4 separate regions of the Homo sapiens genome follow, and all the other regions are linked to region 3. The links come from fine-mapping of genetic effects on gene expression. A gene starts in region 3. Each other region holds a variant in brackets. All regions are shown on one strand. Distances are from middle to middle. Region 1 overlaps IGSF23 (immunoglobulin superfamily member 23). Region 2 has its middle 9.9 kb from the start of IGSF23. Region 3 holds the start of PVR (PVR cell adhesion molecule). Region 4 has its middle 24 kb from the start of CEACAM20.

The links. PIP is the estimated chance that this variant, and not a neighbour inherited with it, causes the effect.
Region 1: its variant is fine-mapped to the expression of PVR in whole blood (TOPMed, PIP above 0.99).
Region 2: its variant is fine-mapped to the expression of PVR in unexposed skin (GTEx, PIP 0.92).
Region 4: its variant is fine-mapped to the expression of PVR in whole blood (TOPMed, PIP above 0.99). The same link has a PIP of 0.9 or more in blood mononuclear cells.

What each region holds. Positions count from the first base shown.
Region 1 is chr19:44,615,383-44,621,319 of GRCh38, forward strand. The region is part of intron 1 of IGSF23 (immunoglobulin superfamily member 23); the gene reads left to right. Among named protein-coding and RNA genes, the nearest start is that of IGSF23, 4.8 kb to the left of the region's middle. RefSeq lists an enhancer at 1-94. The variant C/T (reference allele first, on the strand shown) is at 3,453.
Region 2 is chr19:44,600,729-44,606,665 of GRCh38, forward strand. No RefSeq gene overlaps it. Among named protein-coding and RNA genes, the nearest start is that of IGSF23, 9.9 kb to the right of the region's middle. The variant G/A (reference allele first, on the strand shown) is at 3,110.
Region 3 is chr19:44,640,344-44,646,242 of GRCh38, forward strand. It overlaps PVR (PVR cell adhesion molecule), which reads left to right and starts at 3,567. Exons shown (of 8, transcript NM_006505.5): 1 at 3,567-3,832. The coding sequence starts at 3,754. RefSeq lists a silencer at 3,519-3,598.
Region 4 is chr19:44,550,985-44,556,921 of GRCh38, forward strand. It overlaps the pseudogene CEACAM22P. Among named protein-coding and RNA genes, the nearest start is that of CEACAM20, 24 kb to the left of the region's middle. The variant G/T (reference allele first, on the strand shown) is at 3,011.

The DNA.
Region 1 (5,937 bases), 25 kb before region 3:
GGAGGCCAAGGCGGGCGGATCATCTGAGGTCAGGAATTCAAGACCAGCCTGACCAACATGGAGAAACCCCGTCTCTACTAAAAACAGAAAATTAGCTGGGCGTGGTGGTGCATGCCTGTAATCCCAGCTACTTGGGAGGCTGAGGCAGGAGAATTGCTTGAACCCAGGAGGCGGAGGTTGCGGTTAGCTGAGATGGTGCCATTGCACTCCAGCCTGAGCAACAAGAGCGAAACTCCATCTTTAAAAAAAAAAAAAAAAAGTTCAGTTCCATGTAATTTTAAAACCTCAAAGTCCACCTAGTTCAAAGCTTTGCTCTGTCCCCAGCTCAGGCAGGTGTCACACTGGAAGGAGGAAAGGGACGTGGTGGGCCTCTTCCCTATTTTGTCAGAGCTGTTGTCTGAGGCCTCTCTCAGGGCGGAGGGCAGAGGGGAGGAAGGAAAGAAAAGGAGATTGGAAAGTTTCTCCTAGGCTGCTGTAGTTTTGTGATGGAAACACGGCATGCTGTGTGTTGCTGGATCTTCCTGGGGGCGGGAGGGTGGGGTACTTTGGAAATTGGCTGTGCCACTGGATAAAACAGCAACCAGTTTTTAGAAAGTGGTTTACAACATGTTTGCAAAGTGAGCTGGGGGAGCTTACAAAACATTGTCCAAAGGAAAACAAAGCCACAGTGCAACGAACTTCAACTCTGTAAATACAAAATGTTCTCTTGATAACAGCAGGTACCTCGAGAGTGTGACCAGGACAAGCGTAGGGGTGGAGGTCAAAGGGATATTTGGCTTTATATGGGTCTACTTTTTTTTCCTAAGGAGAAGCTCTTGAGTGATTAAAAATTAATTTTAAAAATTATGAAAAACCTTCAAAGAAAATATACTCCCCAAAGTGGTTATCTGAGTATTAGGCTTAAGGATTTGTTTTACTGCTTTTTACTTTACTTTCCAAATTATTCTATAATGAGGAGCAGACGTTGTTTTTTGTGATGCCTTGTAAGAATTGCTGAACATAATTCTACTTTTTGTTTAAAAGAAATAGAAACAGCCAGGCGTGGTGGCTCACACCTGTAATCCCAGCACTTTGGGAGGCCCAGGCAGGCGGATCACAAGGTCAGGAGATTGAGACCATCCTGGCCGACATGGTGAAACCCTGTCTCTACTAAAATACAAAAAAATTAGCTGGGCGTGGTGGCGCACGCCTGTAGTCCCAACTACTCGGGAGGCTGAGGCAGGGGAATCACTTGAACCCGGGAGGTGGAGCTTGCAGTGAGCCGAGATTGCACCACTGCACTCCAGCCTGGCGACAGAGCGAGACTCCATCTCAAAAAAAAAAAAAAAAGAAGAAGGAAATAGAAACAATAACAAGCATAAAGCTTGAAAAAAAAAAACAGTAAAAGTTTCCAAAACATAGTGTTTATTTCTAGGAGTCTAAGTTTTCTGCTATAAAAATGGAAATAAATAAATATATATATATGAGTATATATGAGTAATACCATATATGTAGAGAGAGAGAGGGAGAGAGAGAAAAAGAGAGAGAGAGAGAGGGAGAAAGGTCTTGCTCTGTCACCCAGGCTGCAGTGCAGTGGCAGGATCATAGCTCACTGAAACCTCAAACTCCTGGACTTGAGGAATCTTCCCACCTCAGCCTCCTGAGTAGCTGGGACTACAGGCGCGTGCCACCATGCCCAGCGAATTTTTTATTTTTGTAGAGACAGGGCCTCACTCAGTTGCCCAGGCTAGTCTTGAACTTCTGGCTCAAGTAATCTTCCAGCCTTGCCCCACCCCTCCCCCCGCCCCCGCAAAGTGCAGGATTACAGGTATGAGCCAACACACCGGCCTACTCTTATATTAAAAAAAAAAAAAAAATGCCTATCAGGAGTGAAAGGATTAGGTGTGGTGCCCAAGAGACGCAGGGATTCTTTTTGGGGTGACGAAAATGTCCTTAAATTGCTTGAGGTGATGGTTGCCCAATTCTGTGAGTATACTAAAAGCTCTTGAATTGTACGCTTTAAATGAGTAAATTATTGGCTAAGAAAGTAGATTTTATGTGTTCTCACCACAAAAAAAATAAGTACATGAGGTAATGCATATGTTAATTAGCTCAATTTAGCCATTCCACAATGTATATGTATTTTAAAACATCACATTGTACACCATAAATATACACAATTTGTATTTGTTAATTTTAAAAAGAAAAAATAGTGGCAAGGTTATAACTTAATCAGTGTCCAGAACAAACATTATGTCACCCTTTAAAAATGTACCATTCACATTGATTTATAACCCTTTATTATTTCTAAATAAGGTGGTGAGAAAATGTTGGGTGAGGGGTTGGGTAGGAGTAAATGGAGCAAAGCAGATCCCAGAACCAGAAGACATTAGTAGTATATGGAGAGAGACACTCAACAGGAGCTGTGGGCTGGAACAGAAGGACCCAGCCAACTGTAGGACTAATCCCTTCAAGCTTACTCCCCCGCTGCCCTCTCCTCTTCTGCCAACGTGCCCACTGACAGAAACCAACCAGCAGCAAAAGGTAAGGGGACCCCAACAACACAGCTCAGAGAAGTCAGCCTTTCAGGCAGCAGAGTGGAGCAGAGAAGGGTAGAAAACCAATTTTTGCAACATCCAGTATAATATACGTGCGTGCTTCAAGGGGTCAAGGAGAGGAATCAATGATTCCTCCTCCTTCCCTGCTCTTCCAAGGCGCCCTGCTCACATCCTGCACCTGCTCTGCCTTCTCAGAGCTGCCCTTCTCGGCACAGCTGAACACCTTGACCGAAGGAGCCAGTGTCCATCTTCCTGTCCCCGGAAGGCTTGAAGGCATTCTCACCACGTCTTGGTTCTGAGGGTATGACGCCCAGCCAGCAGCCATGATATTCTCCCCGAAGGGCCTCCCAGGACCTGCTCACACTGGCCGGGAGATGCTGGGAACCCAAGGCAGCCTGGTCATTAGAAAATGACGGCTCAGGACTCGGGCAGCTACACCGTCGTGCTGGAAACCAGCAGGGGACACAGGAGTGTGACGGAGCAGATCCATGTCAAGAGTGAGTGGGGCCCCGCAGTGGGAGGGGCTGACTTCTCAGAAAGCAGACCCACTGGACCTCAGAAGAGCCCACCAGGACACTTTGCATGCTGGTTATCCATTGCTCCCCAATAAACCACCCCAAAACTTAAAACATCAATCACTTATCTAGCTGGACAGTTGTTGTGTTCAGCTGTTGGGGTGTCTGGGTGTTGGCTGGTCCAGAATGACCTCCTTCATGTGCCTGGCCATGGACCAGCTGGTGGCTGGAGTGATGGGGATGAGTGGGCCACATAGCCTCCCAACCTCCAGCAGGCTATCCCAGGCTTGTTCACTCAGCAATGGAAGAGGAACAAGAGGTAAAGCTGCAAAACTCCTTCAGGCCCAGGCTCAAAACTGACCACCATCACTTCTGCCACCTTCTATTGGTCAAAGCAAGT[C/T]ACATGGCCAGCCCAGCTTCAACAGGAAGGAAAAAGGCCCCACCTCTTAAGGAGAGGAGTTGCAATGTGTTGTGGCTATTTTTTGTCGTTGTGTTAGATTGTTCTTCCATTGCTATAAAGACATACCTGAGACTGGGTTATTTATTTAAAAAAAAAAAAAAAAGAAGAAGACGTTTGATTGGCTCATGGTTCCACAGGTGGAAGTGTAATGCCAGCATCTGCTCAGCTTCTAAGGAGCCCTCAGGGAGCTTTTAATCATAGCGAAGGCAAAGGAGGAGCAGGTGTCTCCCGTGAGAACAGGAGCAAGAGAAAGAGAGAGTCAGAGAGGAAGTGCCACATTTTACAACAATCAGATCTCATGAGAACTCACTACCATGAGGACAGCGTCAAGCCATAAGGGATCCGCCCCTGTGGCCCAAACACCTTTACTGAGGCCCCACCACCAACACTGGGGATCGCATTTCAACATGAGATTTTGGCAGGGATAAATATCCACATTATAACAGCCAAGACTTGCAACAGACATTCATGAGATACGCATTCATCATCACTTGGGAAAGGTAGAGAAGGTCTGGTAGCAGCCTTCAACCTCATCTATATTTTTATCACCTGGACTCAAACTTTCATATCTGAATTAGGAAAACAAAGCCCTGAGAGTAACCAGACCCATCCTCCTTTTAGAAGATAGTCCAGAGACTGTCCTAGTCGGCTCGGGCAAAATACTCTAGGCTTAATCAACAGAAACTTATTCCCTCACAGTTCTGAAGGATGGATTGCAAGATGAAGCTGCTGGCAGGTTTCATCTCCTCTGAGGCCTCTCTTTTTTGACTTGCGGAAGGGTGCCTTCTCATTCTGTCCTTGCATGGTCTTTCTTCTGTGTGTGCACATCCCTGGTGTCTCTCTGTGTGTCCAAACTTCCTCTTCTTATAAGGGCACCAGTCAGGTTGGATTAGGACCCACCCTAACAACTTCATTCTAACTTAATCACCTCGTTAAAGACCTTATCTCCAAATACGGTCACATTCTGAGGTACTGGGGGTTAGGGTTTCAACATATATGTTTGGTGGGGGACTCAATTCAGTTCATAACAGAGATCAACTTAGTTAGGGTTCAGATTCTGATGCTCTAACAAAGACTCAAAAAGTTCCAGTGTCGGCCAGGCGCAGTGGCTCACGCCTGTAATCCCAGCATTTTGGGAGGCCAAGGCGGGCAGATCACGAGTTCAGGAGTTCAAGACCAGCCTGACCAACATGGTGAAACCCCGTATTTATTAAAAATACAAAAATTAGCCGGGCATAGTGGCAGGCGCCTGTAATCCTAGCTATTCAGGAGACTGAGGAAGTAGAATCGCTTGAACCTGGGAGTCGGAGGTTGCAATGAGCCAAGACCATGCCACTGCACACTTAGAACCCCACTTCTGCACAGAGGGGTTTTTACTCCCCTCCCAGAGAATTTATGGACCGCTGAGGTTCATCCATCTGTATTTCTGTGATTTGATGACTAATTTTGTGTGTGTGTGTGTGTGTGTGTGTGTGTGTGTGTGTGTGTGTGAGATGGAGCCTCGCTCTGTCGCCCAGGCTGGAGTGAAGTGGTGCGATCTCGGCTCACTACAACCTCCACCACCCGGGTTCAAGCGAGTCTCCTGCCTCAGCCTCCTGAGTAGCTGGGATCACAGGCGCCCGCCACCACGCCCGGCTAATTTTTATATTTTTAGTAGAGACAGGGTTTCACCATGTTGGCCAGGCTGGTCTCAAATTCCTGACCTCAGGTTATCCACCTGCCTTGGCCTCCCAAAGTGCTGGGATTACAGGCGTGAGCCACCGGGCCCGGCCTGAAGGCTAATTCTTCTAAAGGCCTGGCTCCACACCTTCGCCTATGCCATTCTCAGTCCGAAGGGCCCTTTCTAAAGAGAGAGGTTGCAGGAACTCACGCTCGGTGGTGCAGGCTGTGTGGCCAGAACTCCCTGGATCAAATCCCTCTGGCATCTGTTATGCCCCTGAGTCCCTGCAAAAAAGTAACTTTCTGTTTTGCACTTCAGTTTCCCCATCTGTGCAATGAGGTCATAGTGGAACCTACCTCATAGGGTGACTGTGAGGAGTAAGTGAGTTAATCAGTGCTAAATGCCTACAACAATGCCTGACAAAGAGCAAGTAAATGTTAGCCCTGGCCAGGTGCTATGGCTCACACCTGTAATCCCAGCAGTTTGGGAGGCCGAGGTGAGAGGATTGCTTGAGCTCAGAAGTTCGAGACCAGCCTGGGCAACATGATGAGACGCCCATCTCAACAAAGAATTTAAAAATTAGCCAAGCCTGGTGATGTGCGCCCATAGTCCCAGCTACTCAGGAGGCTGAGATGGAAGGATCCCTTGAGCCCGGGAGGTTGAGGCTGCAGTGAGCTGTAACCTTGCCACTGCACTCCAGCCTGGGGGACACAGCAAGACCCTGTCTCAAAAAAAAAAAAAAAAAAATAGCCCTGTTTGTTTCAA
Region 2 (5,937 bases), 40 kb before region 3:
GTTGTAACTCCTGGAAATAAAAATCTCAGCAGCATAAAAAGGAGAAAATCATTCTCTCTTCTGCAACTATAGAAAAGCAGACACTCTTTCCCTCATAAAACCTTCCTTGTAAATGTGGTTCTCACAAAGGAGTCCTATAAGACACCCAGACTTCAGAGACTGCTCTTGCTGCATCCTGCAAGAGCCACCTCTAACTTCCCAAAGCTGGGCTGATTGTCTTCATTTCTAATTTGTTATTCCTGGTAATGACACTCCTTTTTCCTAAAAAGTACAAAGAATTATGAGTTTTCATTGGCCATTCTCCCTTCCCCTACCCTCATAGAGCTAAAAAGACCACCCAGGACTCTGCTAGAAATTTTTATTAAAACATATAGATAATGTAACAGTCTTGTCTCATTTAAATGAATATTTTCCTTCATGCTGATATATGGATGGTGGCTGAAAACAGCAAGATGAGAAAATTGCTTTCATTTGGAATACTATTGCACTTGTGTTTCCTAAGATATTTCAGGGGTCAGTCTGGTGTTAGGACATTCATGTGCTTCTGATTTGATTGAAGATTGAATTAACTTAAATTCTTTTTTTTGTTGTTTTTTACTTTTTTTATTTTTTTAAAGACAGGGTCTCACTCTGTCTCCTGGGAATGGCTGGGACTGGAGTGCAGTGACAGGAACCGTAACTCACGGCAGCCCGGAACTCATGGGCTAAAGCAATCCTCCCACCTCAGCCTCCTGGTAGCTGGAACTACAGGCACTAGCTAACTGCCTAGCTAACTTTTTAAAAAAATAGATGGAGTCTCACTATGTTGCCCAGGCTGGTCAGGAACTCCTGGCCTCAAGCAATCCTCCCACCTTGGCCTCCCAAAGCACTAGGATTACAGGTGTGAGCCCCTGCACCTGGCCTAATTCAATTTCTCAGAAGGCGAAGGGGACAGATCCATCCCTGGGAAAGACATCTGACTGTTCTATGATGGAAAAGAGAAAGGACTCTGACTCCATTAGTACCCCACGATGATCTGAAGCTGCGAAAGTGACCCATCAGAGGAGCTGCTGTCTCCACCATCACAGGCAGGTGGGGAATCAAAAAGCTGCTGCTGTTGCTGCTAACTGGAATTGTCGGCTCCAGACCTCTGCAGGGCTTGCTGAATTCACACAGGCAAGAGCCTCTCAAAACACACTGGTGATGATACAGAAGATAGAAAGAAATTATTTAGGCAGATAGTAAGAGCAACAGAGTCCTTGGTGGAATTCCTCTTTAACAAAAAGCAGCCCCAAAATCATTTCTTTTCTAAACAAAGAGCAGCCTGAAAAATTGAGCTGCAGACATAGATAAGCAAGCTGGAAGCTTGCATGGGTGAATGCTGGCAGCTGTGCCAATAGAAAAGGGCTACCTGGAAGCCAGGTATGTTCAACCTGGAGGCTCCATCTTCCCTTTTGTTTGTTACCACATGTGCGGTTAAAAAAAAAAAAGCAGGCAACATGGCACTGGCCAGGTAGACAACCCATCTGCATAATGAAGCTGGGTGGGGCAGCCAGCTTCTTTGCGCGCTATGCAAACGGCACACTTAGTCCTAACCAGTTCATCATGTGCTATGCAAATGGCACACCTGGTCCGACCAATCTTTCGTGTCCTATGTAAATCAGACACAGCCTCCTCAATCTCATCTATAAAACCTTCTGCATTTCACTGCCAAAGTGGCAACCTATTTTCTCCAGAACCCCTCTCTGTGCAGAGAGCTCTTCTCTTTCTTTCACCTATTAAACTTCCCCTCTTAATCTTACTCTGGTGGTCCATGTCCTAGTTTTCTGTGGCTGTGAGACAGCGAATCTCGGGTATTTACCCCAGGCAATGACACTGTTTCAGTGGTATCTCAAAAAAAATCTAAACGGGTGTGGTGGCTTACGTTTGTAATCCCAACACTTTTGGAGGCCAAGGCAGGCAGATCACTTGAGGTCAGGAGTTCGAGACCAGCCTGGCCAAAATGGCAAAACCCCATCTCTACTAAAAATATAAAAAATTAGCCAGACATTGGTGGCGGGTGCCTGTAATCCCAGCTACTCAAGAGGCTGAGGCAGGAGAATTGCTTGAACCTGGGAGGCAGAGGTTGCAGTGAGCCGAGATCGCAATCACGCCACTGCACTCCAGCCTGGGCAACAGAGCAAGACTCTGTCTCAAAAAAAAAAAAAAAAAAAAAAAGAACCTTAGTCTCCACAACAACTTATCTTATCCCAGACATTCCTTTCTATTGATTCCAGGTCTTGAGATGATAACTTAACTCTTTCAACCAATTGCCAATCAGAAAATCTTTGAATCCATTTATGACCTGTAACCCCTCTGCCCCACTTCAAGTTGTCCCACCTTTCTGGGCTGAATCAGCGTATACCTTACGTGTACTGACTGATGTCTGCCTGTAACTTCTGTCCCCCTAAAATGTACAAAATCAAGCTGTAATCCAACCATCTGGGGCACACATTCTCAGGATTTCCTGAAGCTGTGTCATAGGTCATGGTCCTCACATTTGGCTAAGAATAAATATTTTCAAATATTTTAGAGTTTAGCTTTTTTCATCAACAAATGACATCCTTAGTCCTGGCCAGAAGTCAGAACCAACTGAGAGAGAGAGACAGATCAGCATGTCATCAGTATTTCCTAAGCAATACGCAATATCAGGGAATGTGGCCAAGCTGTGTAGCCCAATGGGTTTGTCATCACCTCCTTTGCTTCCTGTCGCCTCCAATCTAAATATCAACATAGGATGTAAGTTTGGATGCTGGTGATAGATTAAAAATAGCAATGGCTTAAATTCCATAGAAATGAATTTCTCTCTCCTGTAACAGTCCTAGCTGGTATGCAGTTCTGCTTTGTGAGGGTATCATGAGTCTGTGCTCTTCCATCTTGTTCTCTGCTATCCCTATGATGCTGAGCTTGTAAACCAAAAATACAACTCAAAGCCGCCACCTACCACACACCTAAACCATCTGAACGGACTCCCTCCTTGGCCAGGCCACTCCAAATTTAACCTGAAAGACTGGTTCAGCCCATGACGGGTGGGATGGGGGTTGGGGTTGGATGTGCTGAAGCAGGGTTGTTCGTCTTGGGTAATACCCGA[G/A]ATTCGTTGCCTCAAGCCAATGAAATCAAGGATGTGGACCCACAAGGAGTGAGGTTAGGAGCAGAGGTTTAATAGGTGAAATAAAGAGAAAATTTTGCTGTCTTCTGCAGAGAGAGGGGGGTCCCAAGAGGGTTTTCCGGTCCATGGTGAAGTGCAGGAGGTTTTATAGATGAGTTTGAAAAGGCAGTGTCTGATTTACATAGGGCACAAAATATTGGTCGAACCAGGTGTGCCATTTGTATAGCATGCAAAGAGCTGGTTAGGGTTAGGTGTGCCTTTTGCATAGCTCCTGAAAAAGCTGGCCACCCCACCCCAATCTTTTATTATGCAGATGGGCTGTCTACCTGGCCTGTGCCATGTTGCCTGCTTTTTTTTTACTGTACATGTGGTGACAAAGAAAAGGGAGGATAAAGCCTCCATGTTGAACATACCTGGCCTCCAGGTAGCCCTATTCTATTGGCACAGCTGCCGGCATTCACCCAAGCGAGCCACTACTTTGGTTATCTATGTTTACAGCTCAGTTTTTCAGGATGCTCTTTGTATAAAAGACGTGACTTTGGGGCGGCTTTTTGTTAAAAGGGAAATTCCACCACAGACTCTGTTGCCCTTACTATCTGCCTAAACAATTTCTTTCTAGCTCCTGTATGAGTGCTTCATTATGGCCGCATCCCTTTTGGAGTTCAGGAAAAACAGACCAGCATTTAACATCGACACAGACCTGAAGTCTGATAAGAAACATTTACAATCCATTCTCTCTGAAGGCTGCTACCTGGAGGCTTCATTTGCATCATAAAACTCTGGTCTCCACAACCTCTTATCATAACTCAGACAGTCCTTTCTATTGATAATAACTCTTTCAACCAATTGCCAATAGAAAAATTTTTCAATCGACCTATATGGAAGCCCCTCCCCCACCACTTTCAGTTATCCCACCTTTCTGGACTGAACCGATGTATATCTTAAATGTTTTGATTGATGTCTCGTGTCTCCCTAAAATGTATAAAACAAAGCTACACCCCAAACATCTTGGCCATATGTTTTCAGGGTCACCTGAGGGCTGTGTCATGGGCTATGGTCACTCATATTTAGCTCAGAATAAATCTCTTAAAATATTTTACAGGGCCAGGCACAGTGGCTCATGCCTGTAATCCCAGCACTTTGGGAGGCCAAGGTGGGCAGATCACCTGAGGTCAGGAGTTCGAGACCAGACTGGCCAACATGGTGAAACCCTGTCTCTACTAAAAATACAAAAAACTTAGCTGGGCGTTGTGGTACACCCCTGCAATCCCAGCTACTCGGGAAGCTGAGGCACGAGAATTGCTTGAACCTAGGAGGCGGAGGTTGCAGTGATCCAAGATTGTGCCACTACAGTCCAGCCTGGGTGACAGAGCAAGACTCTGTCTCAAAAAATGTATATATTTTAGAGGGTTTTCATCGACACGCTTGTTCCCAGGGCCCCTAGCGTGTCGCACACTTGTTCCCAGATCCCCCAGCATGTCCCCACTTCCACCTGAAGGTAGGGAAAACAAGAAAGGGAGAACTTTATTGAAGGGCATGACCCAGAAATGGCACACAACTCTTCTGTTCACATACCATTCACCAGAACATGCTCACGTGACTACAGCTGCTGCAAGGAAGGCTGGGAAATTTAGTCTTTATTCCAGGCAACCATTGGCCAAACTTAAACTCCTCTAACTATGAAAGGACTCGTAGATTGGGGAGGCACCACTAGCTTCTCTGCCATATATATTTACAACCCCAATAGTTGCTTCCTCTGCTAAGGCAGGTACATTATCACATAGTAGGAGGAAGCAGACCAAACTGTAGTCGTTCTGGAGACAGGTAAATCCAAAAATGGGAGGAGAGGATCTGAGCCAAGTAAGCTCATTTTCTTCTCCCAGACTCATCAAACTCATAGCAGGGGACAAAAGCCAAAAGTTTTATTCCAACTTCAGATTTCTAACTGGGGCAGTATTAATATTTTAGCTGAGACAAGTTTCTGTTGTATGGGACAGTCCCACCTATTATTGCAGGAGGTTTTGCCCAATAAATGTCACTACTGTTTCATCCTCAGGCATTGTGACAACCAAACTGTAGGAAGATGGGCTGGGCACAGTGGCTCATGCCTATAATCCCGGTGCTTTGGGAGGCTGAGGTGGGAGGATTACTTGAGGCCCTGAGTTCAAAACCAGCCTGAGCAACAAAATGAGATCCCATCTCCACACACACACACAAAATCAAATTGTAGGAAGAGATTTCCAAAACCTCTAGGAGGGGCAGGGGATGCCTTCGACTGGGAAATATAGGGGCATTTGTAACCACACCAGACCAATCTGATTCAACTTTTATGTAACAAAGCTGTAAGTTGTTTTTCAGTTGCCACGGACTCCCAGGTTGAAGGTCCATAACCTAAGCATGCCCAGGTGAACCAAACGTGCAACCTTGACTGAAACCCAAGTACTCAGACTGGGAAGTGAGGATTGAATTAAGAAGTGGACACTGCATGGCGGGATCCAGGATCCAATCACATTGAGCCCTGGCATCACCCCAGGGCACGGTCCAATCAAATCATGCCTCCCCACATCACCTCATTACAAGATCCAATCAGATCATGCCTCCCTGCAAATAATTACAAATGTAGTACGAGAAACACTGAGGTTTGGGAAATGTTCACAATAAGGCAAGATCCAATCAGATCATGCCTCATTACCCTTGGGACTATAAAACCTGTCCCAACCCCTAGCTCAGGGAGATATATTTGAGCCTGACTCCTATCTCCTTGCTTGACAGCCTTGCAATACACTTTTCTGTCTACAAAATCCCAAGGT
Region 3 (5,899 bases):
CACACCCTTCTGGACAAAGCTTCACATCTGACATTTTCTTTTTTGGGGTGGACAGAGTCTTACTCTGTCACCGAGGCTGGAGGGCCGTGGCGCAATCATGGCTCATGGCAGCCTCAAACTCCTGGGCTTGAGGGATCCTCCAGCCTCAGCCTCCCAAGTAGCTGGGACTATGGGCATGTGCCACCACACCTGGCTAATTTTTTAATTTTTTGTAGAAATACAGGGGGTGGGGGCATATCTGAAAATTTTAAACCTTCCCTGACTGCCGTGAGCATTTCTGGGTAGAAGCCACTCCACGACCTTACTTTGCTGGCATGAGTGCTGGACAGCAATTTGGCAACATCCTCTAGACCACAAATGTGCATGGCCTTTGGCCCAGCAAATCAGCTTCTGGGAATAAATATGACAGATACTGTTACATACATGGGAAATGCCATGGACATGATGACCCAGGGAAGCACAGTTTGCAAGTACAAAAGGGCTGGAAACACCCAAAAAGCCCATCCCCTGAAGACAGTTTCAAAAATGACGGTGCATTCATGTAATGGAATAGTACACATTTGTGAATGAATGAATGAGGTAGCTCAATATATCTGCCTATGGGAAAATCACCAAGATATGTTGCTAAGTGAAAAACAGAAAGATACAGAATAATGCTACCATTTTATTTTTTAATGGGAGAGGGAAGAATAAGGAAATGGATTCATATTTGCTTAATTACACAAGCTTCCTGATGATCCTTTTGGATCCAGAAGTTTGAAAACCACAGCATCAAGAGGATGCCCATTGGGCATGGTGGCTCACGCCTGTAATCCCAGCACTTTGGGAGGCTGAGGAGGGTGGATCGCCTAAGTTCAGGAGTTCGAGACCAGCCTGGCCAACATGGTGAAACCCCATCTCTACTAAAAACACAAAAAAATTAGCTGGGTATGGTGGTGCAGGCCTGTAATTCCAGCTACTTGGGAGGCTGAGGCGCAAGAATCACTTAAGCCTGGGAGGCGGAGGCTGCCGTGAGCCGAGATCACGCCATTGCACTCCAGCTTGGGAGACAGAGCAAGACTGTCTCAAAACAAACAAACACACACAAAAAATAAGATGCCCATTGGAGATCTCCATTCACTATTTTATCAGATGATATTTCAGCACTTGAGTGAAGAAAATGTCTACAACTGGTCCAAACACTCAAGGAATTTAGACTCTTGACAGAGAAACACACAGAAGCAAGCAGATATGCCCCGAACCAAACTTGCTTTTTCTTCTAAGCCTGCTTCTTCGGAGCAGCCTCTGACCCTCCAGGGCCCTGAGAGGAGTCCCTGGAGCCACAGGAGCTTGGGAGCCCAGAGAAGTGGGGGAATCCCAGATGGTGACAGCATCATCCAGAGGAGGAACATAACGATGGCCACAGATTCCCAATTTGGAAATAACTCAGCAAAACAACACTGACAGAAAATTCAGAGATTTCCAAGAGACTAGCCTCCCTGTTTCCATTTAGAAATTCACCTACATACATCCAGGGTGAGAGACCCCAAGCATCAGATGTGTCATACACAAGCATCAGATCCAAGTTAGAGAGGGCACCCGGGGACAGAAACCTCCAAGCCAGCCAAAAGCCAAAGGAAGGATTTTACAGAAAGATACAGGAATGTGGGGCCAGGCACAGTGGCTCATGCCTGCAATCCTAGCACTTTGGGAGGCCGAGGTGGGAGGATCGCTTGCGGCCAGGAATTCAAGGCCAGCCTGAGCAACATAGCGAGATCCTATCTCTACAACAAATTTAAAAACTAGCTGGGTGTGATCACATATGCCTGTGGTCCCAACTACCCAGGAGGCTGAGGCAGGAGTTGAGCCCAGGAGGTGGAGGCTGCAATGAGCAATGATGGCGCCACTTCACTCCAGCCTCAGTGAAATAGTGAGACCCTGTCTAAAAATAATAATAAAAATAAAAAACATATAAAGATGTCAGAGCACAGGGACCAGAGCTGTTAGTCGGCCTCATGGAGACCCTGGCCAGGACAGCCACCTCTGGGGACCAGGAAGTCTCTCAGTTTCTGTCTCTGAGGGTTTGGCTCTCTGAGTCTCTCTGTCACCTCTCATTTCTCTCTCATCTCCCTCTGTCTATGCTGTGTCTCTATCTCTTTCAATCTCTCTGTCTCTGTCTCCCAGCCCTTATCTCTGAGTGTGTCTGTTTCTCTCTCATTTCTCTCTCTCTCTCTCTCTCTTTCTCTCTCTCTCTTTCTCTCTCTCTCTTTCTCTCTCCCCCCTCCCTCCTCCCCTCTCCCTACTGCAGGCTGGTCCATAACCCTTATCTTCCCCAGACCTGATGGAGTTCTGGTATTAATCTGTTTATGGTCTGTTTCCCTCCACTAGAACACGGTCTTCATTAAAGGCAGAGATTTTTGTCTGTCTTATTTTCTGCTGTATACCCAGTGCCTGGGATACTGGCTGGATCAATAAATATATGCTGAATGAAGAATGAATGAATGACCATTCTCATGAACATTATTATTTGATGCCAACTGTAAAGCAACAATAATAATAATTGTCACTGCCACTGCTGCTATTGTTGGTATATCAGCTTTTTATTTAGTACAAACTATATCCCCGAAATTGAGCTAGGCAGTTTCTTGTTTAAGTTTTACAGACCACGCTGTGAGGTAAGTACTGTTAGTATGCCCTTTTTTCTTTCTTTTTGAGACAGAGTCTCACTCTGTCGCCCAGGCTGGAGTGCAGAGGCCCGATCTTGGCTCACTGCAACCTCTGCCTCCCGGGTACAAGTGATTTTCCTGTCTTAGCCTCCCCAGTAGCTGGGATTACAGGCATGTGCCACCATGCCGGCTAATTTTTGTATTTTTAGTAAAGATGGGTTTTTGCCATGTTGGCCAGGCTGGTCTTGAACTCCTGGACCTCTGGTGATCCTCCTGCCTCGGCCTCCCAAAGTGCTGGGATTACAGGCGTCAGCCACTGCGCTTGCTCCCCCAGCCCCCAAACTTTTTTTTTTTTTTTTGAGACAGGTCTGGCTCTGCCACCCAAGCTGTAGTGTAGTGGCGCAATGGTAGCTCACTGAAGCCTCTAACTCCTGGGTTCACACAGTCCTCCTGCCTCAGCCTCCCAAAATGCTGGAATTCAGGCCTGAGCCACCGCGCCCTACTATGCCCATTTTTCAGATAAAGAATCTGAGGGCCCTCGAGGAGAAACCACTTGCCCAACATGAGCCCTGGTCTTGTCTGACCCCAAAGCCCATGGGAAGTTTAGGCTGCGTGGAAGGACAGCCTGGTGGGCTCAGGATCTGTCCCATCACGAGTTGGAACCTCAGCTCTGCCACTCGGCAACCGCGAGCCGTTAGTAAGTTGCTGAATCTCTCCGTGTGCCTCCGTTTCCTCACCTGGAATGTGGGCGACCTCACACAGGAAGCCGCCTCTTCTAGTGGGCACCGACGGAGCGAGCGCGCGTCTGCAGCGGGACTGAGCGCCGGGAGAGACCTGCGCAGGCGCAGGCGCGCGGGGAGGGCCAGCCTGGGTGGCCCACCCCGCGCCTGGCGGGACTGGCCGCCAACTCCCCTCCGCTCCAGTCACTTGTCTGGAGCTTGAAGAAGTGGGTATTCCCCTTCCCACCCCAGGCACTGGAGGAGCGGCCCCCCGGGGATTCCAGGACCTGAGCTCCGGGAGCTGGACTCGCAGCGACCGCGGCAGAGCGAGCGGGCGCCGGGAAGCGAGGAGACGCCCGCGGGAGGCCCAGCTGCTCGGAGCAACTGGCATGGCCCGAGCCATGGCCGCCGCGTGGCCGCTGCTGCTGGTGGCGCTACTGGTGCTGTCCTGGCCACCCCCAGGAACCGGTGAGTGACCCCCGCGCAGTCCGGTGGCCCCTGTCTGGCTCCCAGCTCCGCATCCAGGCCGGGTACTCGCCCCCTTGGGTTCCCGAAGATGACGGCCCCGCCCGGCGCCACCCACCCCCCATCTCTGCCCCGGGGTTGGAAGGAACACGGTGCGAGGGTGCGAGGGCAGGACCCTCCTCTTGGCCACCCGGAGAGCGGTCGGAGTTGGGTACAGAAATTCCTCGAAATTGGCAGCAACACGGGTCGGGCACAAGACCCTCCTCTGGGCCCCTCGGAAAGGGGATGGAGTTGGGTGAGGAAATTTCCCAAAAAGGCAAGTGAATCCCGGAAAATCAGCAGATGGTGACGCATGCCGGATTACCTTACCCAGGTTCCTGCTCAGCATACCCAGGCCATAACCCAGCAGCGTGCTGGCAGGCTGGGTCTGGACGGAGGGGATGGTTGATGTTGGGGAGGAGGACAGTGGGTGACACTTGACACCATTACCCCTCTGACCCCCAATGTCTGACTCCAGGGGCCTGGCCATTCATTCATTCTTTCATTCTTTTTTTTTTTTTTTTGAGACAGTCTCACTCCATCACCCAGGCTGGAGTGCAGTGTCCTGCTCTCGGCTCACTGCAGCCTCCTCCTCCCGAGTTCAAGCGATTCTCCTGCTTCAGCCTCCCGAGTAGCTCGGATTACAGACATGTGCCACTATGCCTGGCTAATATTTTTGTATTTTTAGTAGATACAGGATTTCACCATGTTGGCCAGGCTGGTCTCAAACTCCTGATAAATATATATATTATATATTATTATTATATATTACATATTATAGTAATATATAATAAAAATATATAATATATATTATAGTAATATATAATATATAATAAAATATATAATATATATTATAGTAATATATAATATATAATAAAATATATAATATATATTATAGTAATATATAATATATTATAATATATTATATATATTATTATAATATATAATATGTATATTATATATTATATATATTATTATAATATATAATATGTATATTATATATTATATATATTATTATAATATATAATATGTATTATGTATTATATAATTGATAATATATAATAATATATTTCTTAATAAATATATATTAAATATATTATATATTTATAACATATATTATTTATATAATAAATAATATATATTTTATTATACATTTAAAGAGTAAATAGATAACATATTTTATTATTTATTTATATGTTTTGTGTATATATATATATATATATATATATATATAGTGCGTGTGTGCGTGTATGTGTGTGTGTGTATGAGAGAGACAAGGTCTTGCTTTGTTGCCCAGGCTGGAGTGCAGTGGTACAATCCCGGCTCATTGCAAACTCGACTTCCCAGGCTCAAGCGATCCTCTCACTGTGGCTTCTGGAGTAGCTGGGATTATAGGTGCTCACCTGGCTAATTTTTTTTGTATTTTTGGTAGAGACAGGGTTTCGCTATGCTGCCCAGGCTGGTTGCAGCCAAGCACAGTGGCTCATGCCTGTAATCCCAACACTTTGGGAGGCTGTGGTGGGAGGATCACTTGAGCTTAGGAATTCAAAACCAGCCTGGGCAATATGGCAAGACCCCATCTCTACAAAAATAATTAACTAAATAAAAATTTAAAAATAAAAAAGAATGCATAGGACCATGTTTATTAGTGTCAATAAGCGCTGTCACATTTTGAGGACCTACTATGTGCTAGGGCCCTTAGCAGAAAGATTTTTATATAGGACCTGGGGGATTAGAGGTCAGTCTCTGACCGCCCAAGTTCAAATCCCACCTCTGCCACTAAACCTCTGTATGACTTGGAGGACACTATACTCTGTGTCAGTTTCCCTGTCTGTAAAATGATGTTAACAGTAGTGCTTGCCTCAGGGGGGCTATTTGAGGATTAAATGCCAAGATATATGTGAAGCACCCAGAATAGCCCCTGATCTGTGTCAGCACCCTGTGAGTGTCCACTGTTCTAAGTCTCATTTTACAAACTAGGAAAAAGAATCAGAGAGGTTAAGTAACCGGCCTGAAGCTCCACAGCAGAAA
Region 4 (5,937 bases), 89 kb before region 3:
ATATATACGTTCATATATACGTTCATATATATACGTTCATATATGCGTTCATATATGCGTTCATATATATACGTTCATATATGCGTTCATATATATACGTTCATATATGCGTTCATATATATACGTTCATATATACGTTCATATATATACGTTCATATATGCGTTTATATATACGTTCATATATGCGTTCATATATATGCGTTCATATATATGCGTTCATATATACGCGTTCATATATACGTTCATATATACGCGTTCATATATACGCGTTCATATATACGCGTTCATATATACGCGTTCATATATACGTTCATATATACGCGTTCATATATACGTTCATATATATACGTTCATATATACGTTCATATATATACGTTCATATATATACGTTCATATATATACGTTCATATATATACGTTCATATATACGTTCATATATACACGTTCATATATACGTTCATATATACGTTCATATATACGTTCATATATACGTTCATATATACATTCATATATATGTTCATATATACGTTCATATATATGTTCATATATATATATATATATATATATATATATATGAATGATGGAATACTACTCGGTCATAAAAAGGAATGAATTAACAACATTTGCAATGACCTGGATGAGACTGGAGACTATTATTCTAAGTGAAGTAACTCAGGAATGGAAAACCAAACATCATATGTTCTCACTGATATGTGGGAGCTAAGCTATGAGGACACAAAAGCGTAAGAATGATACAATGGACTTTGGGGACTTGGGGTGAAGAGTGGGAGGGGAGTGAGGGATGAAAGACTACAAATAGGGTGGAGTGTATACCGCTCAGGTGATGGGTGCACCAAAATCTCACAAATCACCCCCAAAGAACTTACTCATGTAACCAAACCGACCTGTACCCCAATAATCTATGGAAAAATAAATAAAATAAAATAAAGCAATAGAGAAAAAGCCTCAAAAATATGAACAGAACATCATTGTTCTATGGGAATAATATCAAGCAGTCTATCACAGGTGCAGCTAAAGAATGAATAAATAAATAAATAAATAAATAAATAAATAAATAAATAAAAATAGATGACTCGGAAAGGAGGAGAGAATATGGCAGACTGGCTGCGGATCTCAAGACCGGAGAAAGCACATGGTGGTGAGTTTTCTGGACTTTCTTTGCGCCTCACAGATCCCAGACTGGGAGCTGGAGAGCCTGGCAATCTAGAAATGCCAATGAGTGTAGATCCAAAAGAGGCTCAAGCAAAGCCTGCTCTAGCCAAAGGACAAGGAGCAGTAGCCTGACAAGATTTGCTAAAGACAGCAAATCTTTACAAGATAATCACTTTGCTGCTGTGATATCCCACAGAAAAGCCTGGACATTTACCCTTGCCAGCTGTACAGAGACACCCATCCCCTCCACCAGGCTGAATAAGCAGCTGGGACTGTCATCCTTGCCCAGCAGTAATGAGCACCGACCCTGCAGTGTCCATTGAGGCCACTAGGGAGCGGTAACGAGGCGTCTCTGCCCCTTCTGGGCAAGATGGTATCAGAGGATGTCTCAGTGGAAAGCCTGAACTCTGCTAACTGCCCAGAGTAACAGTTGCCCCGCCCCACCTGGAATGTCAACAGAGGCCAAATGGGGAACCTGGACCTCCATCCCCACTGGCTATAACAAGATGGTGCCCTTTTTGCCCCACCAGCAAGATGTCAGAGGAGACCTGCTATAACAGAAGATTTAAATGAGATCCAGCGTCTCATAATTTCCAAAATGTCCAGGGTGTTGTTGAAAATCACTTGTCATACACCTACATGTAATCCCAATACTTTGGGAGGCCGAGGTGGGAGAATTGCTTGAGCTCAGAAGTTCGAGACCAGCGTGGGCAACATAGTGAGACCCCATCTCTACAAAAAAAAAAAAAAAATTGACTGAATGAGAAAGACATTCCTGAAATTAAATGAGGAAAGACAATTAATAGAGATGACATGGATTGTTGTTGATGTTTTCTAACTTGGTCTTGAGTTTTCTAGGGGATTTAGTTGTAGATGTTTAAAGTGTAATTTTCACTGGTTACTTCTTTATCTTGGTGGTCGGCCTAATGCCTACATGTCTGACCTGTGACCAGGTGTCCCTCTCACAGTACACTTATTTTTTGTGTGTTTGTTTGTTTTTGAGACAGAGTCTCACTCTGTCACCCAGGTCGGAGCGCAGTGGTATGGTCTTGGCTCACTGCAACCTCCACCTCCCAGGTTCAAGCAATTCTCATGCCTCAGCCTCCTGAGTAGGTGGGATTACAGACATATGCCACTACACCCAACTAATTTTTTTTTTTTTTTAAGTACAGACGGGGTTTCACCATGTTGGCCAGGCTGATCTTGAACTCCTAGCCTCATGGGATCCTCCCACCCCAACCTCCCATAGTGCTGGGATCACAGGCATGAGCCATCACACCTGGCCACAGTACACTTGTTTATAATGGCAGACATTCTTAAGGCTTTTGTCTGACCTGTGTCCAGTTTATTTCTACAAAGAGAGCCATGCTTTAGGACAGCCCTGACCAGGAAAGACGTTAGGTTTGGATGTGTCAGTCAGGTGAGACACAGAGGAGGCAGCACAACAAAACACATGAAATAACAGGGGCAGTTTATTACTCACAGATTCCGGAGAAGACAGAGCAGCACATCTCACAGAGCCAACAGGAAGAAGAGAGTTGTCGGGACACGCACACTCAACCAGCGGGTGGGGAGCAAGAAAGAGAAAGTGAGAGACCTGTGGGCTGATGCTTTTATTGGAGTCTAAGGAAACTGCTCAGGCAGTTTTCCACAGAGAATTCTAACTGGGTTTAGAGCCAGCAGGCACAAGTTGCATGGAGTCACACTGACTGGGAGGTGATCACTGTGGCATATCTGCACAGCCTATGCAGGGTCTGGGGGTCAGGGGGACAGTCAGGTGAGTTATATCTAGCTGTTGCATAAGGAGGTGGTTAACAGGAAGTGGTAGTGTAAGGCAG[G/T]TATCTGGATCTGCCACATTAAGGATCTGGGGGGAGGCGGAGACCTGGAAACTGTGTCAAGGGTGACTAAGCTTTTCTTATGGTATGAGAAAGTCCAACTTATATTCAAAATAGATACTGAGCCAGGCACAGTGGCTCACATCTGTAATCCCAACACTTTGGGAGGCTGAGGCAAGAGGATTGCTTGAGCTCAGGAGTTTGAGACCAGCCTGGGCAACACAGTGAGACCTCCGTCTCTACAAATAAAATTTCAAAAAATTAGCTGGGTGTGGTGGCATACGCCTATAGTCCCAGCTACTTGGGGGACTGAGATGAGAGGTTCACTTGAGCCCAGGAGCTCGAGGCTGCAGTGAGCCGTGATTGCACCACTGCACTCCAGCCTGGGTGACAGAGTGCGACCCTGTCTCAAAACAATAACATTTCAAAAATTGATACTGAGTTTCTATAAAATTGTAAGAATTCACTACACTGATGTTAGAATTGTCTTAAAAGAATCTTAGAGCAGCCAACATAAAAATGCTTCAATGAACAATTACAAACACTTGAAATAAGTGAAAAACCAGAAAGTCTCAGCAAAGAAATAGAAGATATGAAAAAGAACAAGACGGAAATTTTAGAATGGAAAAGCACAATAACAGAAATTTTTTAAAAACTTAATGTTTGAGCCCAGCTGCAGAATGGAGATGACAGAGATAAAAATCAGTGCAGATAAAAGTTACCAAATCTGAACAACAGAAAGAAAATAGACTGATAAGAAGTGAAGAACAGAACTTTGGGACCTGTGGGACTTTAACAAAAGAGCCAACATTCATGTCATTGGAGACCCAGAAGGAAAGGAGGAAGTGGGTATAATGGCTGGTTTCCCAAATCTGGTAAAAGACATACATCTATGGAATCAAGAAACTGAGTAAACCCCAATGCCAGCGTGGTAATCAGGATTCTAAATATAGTCCTTCCAGATTTCTGTTCCTGATTGTTCAATCAAATGCTAATCTAGGTATTGCTTTGAAGGGATTTTGTAATTAAAGCTCAAAGTCAGCTGATCTTAAAATACAGATCATCTGGGTGGGCCTGACCTGATCAGGTGACTCTTTTAAAAGCAGATCAGATGAGAAAGTCAGAGAATCAAAACACAAGGAGGATTCAATGCATCCTTGCTGTCTTTGAAGATGCAGGGGTCAATGTGTGAGCAGGGTAGAGTGGCCTGCAAGAGCTTAGAGCACCCGCAGATGACAGCCAGCAAGGAAACAGACCTCAGTCCTACAACTGTAAGAACCTGGATTCTGGCCAGGCACAGTGGCTCATTCCTGTAATCCCAGCACTTTGGGAGGCCGAGGCAGATGGATCACGAGGTCAGTAGATCGAGACCATCCTGGCTAACATGGTGAAACCCCGTCTCTACTAAAAATACAAAAAATTAGCCAGGCATGCTGGTGGGTGCCGGAGCTTGCAGTGAGCCGAGATCGCCCCACTGCACTCCAGCCTGGGCGACAGAGCGAGACTCCATCTCAAAAAAAAAAAAAAAAAAAAAAAGAACCAGGATTCTGCCACCATCTGAATGAGCTTGGATATGGGTTCTTTCCCAAAGCCTACAGGTAAACCCCAGCCAACTCACATCACACCTTGATTTTGACCTGGTGAGAGAACCCAGTTGAGGACACTTGGACATCGAGGTACAGAAACTGAAATAGTAAATGTTATTCACTCTCTTAGTTCACCCAGAATCAGACTCTGCACTAGAATGTAAGTGCAATTAGTTTATTATTTATTTATTTACTTTTTTGGAGATGGAGTCTCGCACTGTCGCCTGCCACCACGCCAGGCTAATTTTTTGTATTTTTAGTAGAGACAGGGTTTCACCATGTTAGCCAGGATGGTCTCGATCTACTCACCTCGTGATCCACCTGCCTCAGCCTCCCAAAGTGCTGGGATTACAGGCGTGAGCCACCACACCTTAGTGCAATTAGTTTATTTTGGAGAAAGCATTGGCAGAGGTGTGGGAAAGTAAGTAAGGGAAAAGAAGGAAGCCATATAGAAAAATTAGCTCTATAGAAAACTGGAGCTCACCTCTGAAAACTGGTACAAAACACACCTCTGAGGGCCGGGCGCAGTGGCTCACGCCTGTAATCTCAGCACTTTAGGAGGCTGAGGCAGGCAGATCACCTGAGGTCGGGAGTTTGAGACCAGCCTGACCAACATGGAGAAACCCCCTCTCTACTAAAAATACAAAATTAGCCCGGCGTGCTGTCACATGCCTGTAATCCCAGCTACTCAGGAGGCTGAGGTGGGAGAATCACTTGAACCTGGGAGGCGGAGGTTGCGGTGAGCCAAGATCGTGCCATTGCATTCCAACTTGGGCAACAAGAACGAAACTCCATCTCAAAACAAAACAACAACAACAAAAAATAAAACCACCTCTGAGTTGTTCCCCCTAAGTTCAGGGGAATATATCTACCAATTCCTTCTTGGTGTTAGTTAATGGTCACTCCCAGGATGTTAATTTCTCTGACATTTTCAGCCTGCCCTCAGTTGGGGCTTGCATCCTCTTGTACTCAGAGAAATCAGAGAGGCACAGACACTCATGGAAGGGGTTGCGGAAGTACTCACCACTCTCTTTCAGTCATTTCGAGAATTTCTCTTCTTTCATCATTCAGTCGTCCTAAAAGTCCTGTGTGTCAATAATAAATTACACCCACTGAAAGGAAGACGTATATTTACATTTCATGGCCTTTCATTTTCTATTAGTGTCCCCTTCATTCCACTCCATCTTATTATTAGAATGATTCTACCAGTGTCTTTCTGGAAAATAGGTGTAGGAATAAATTTATTCTAAAAAATAAAACAACATCTACGCAAAGAGGTCTTAAAACCTTCATAATTAGCTCTATAAAACAATTAACTCCAAGAAGTAATGCTGAATGCTTTCC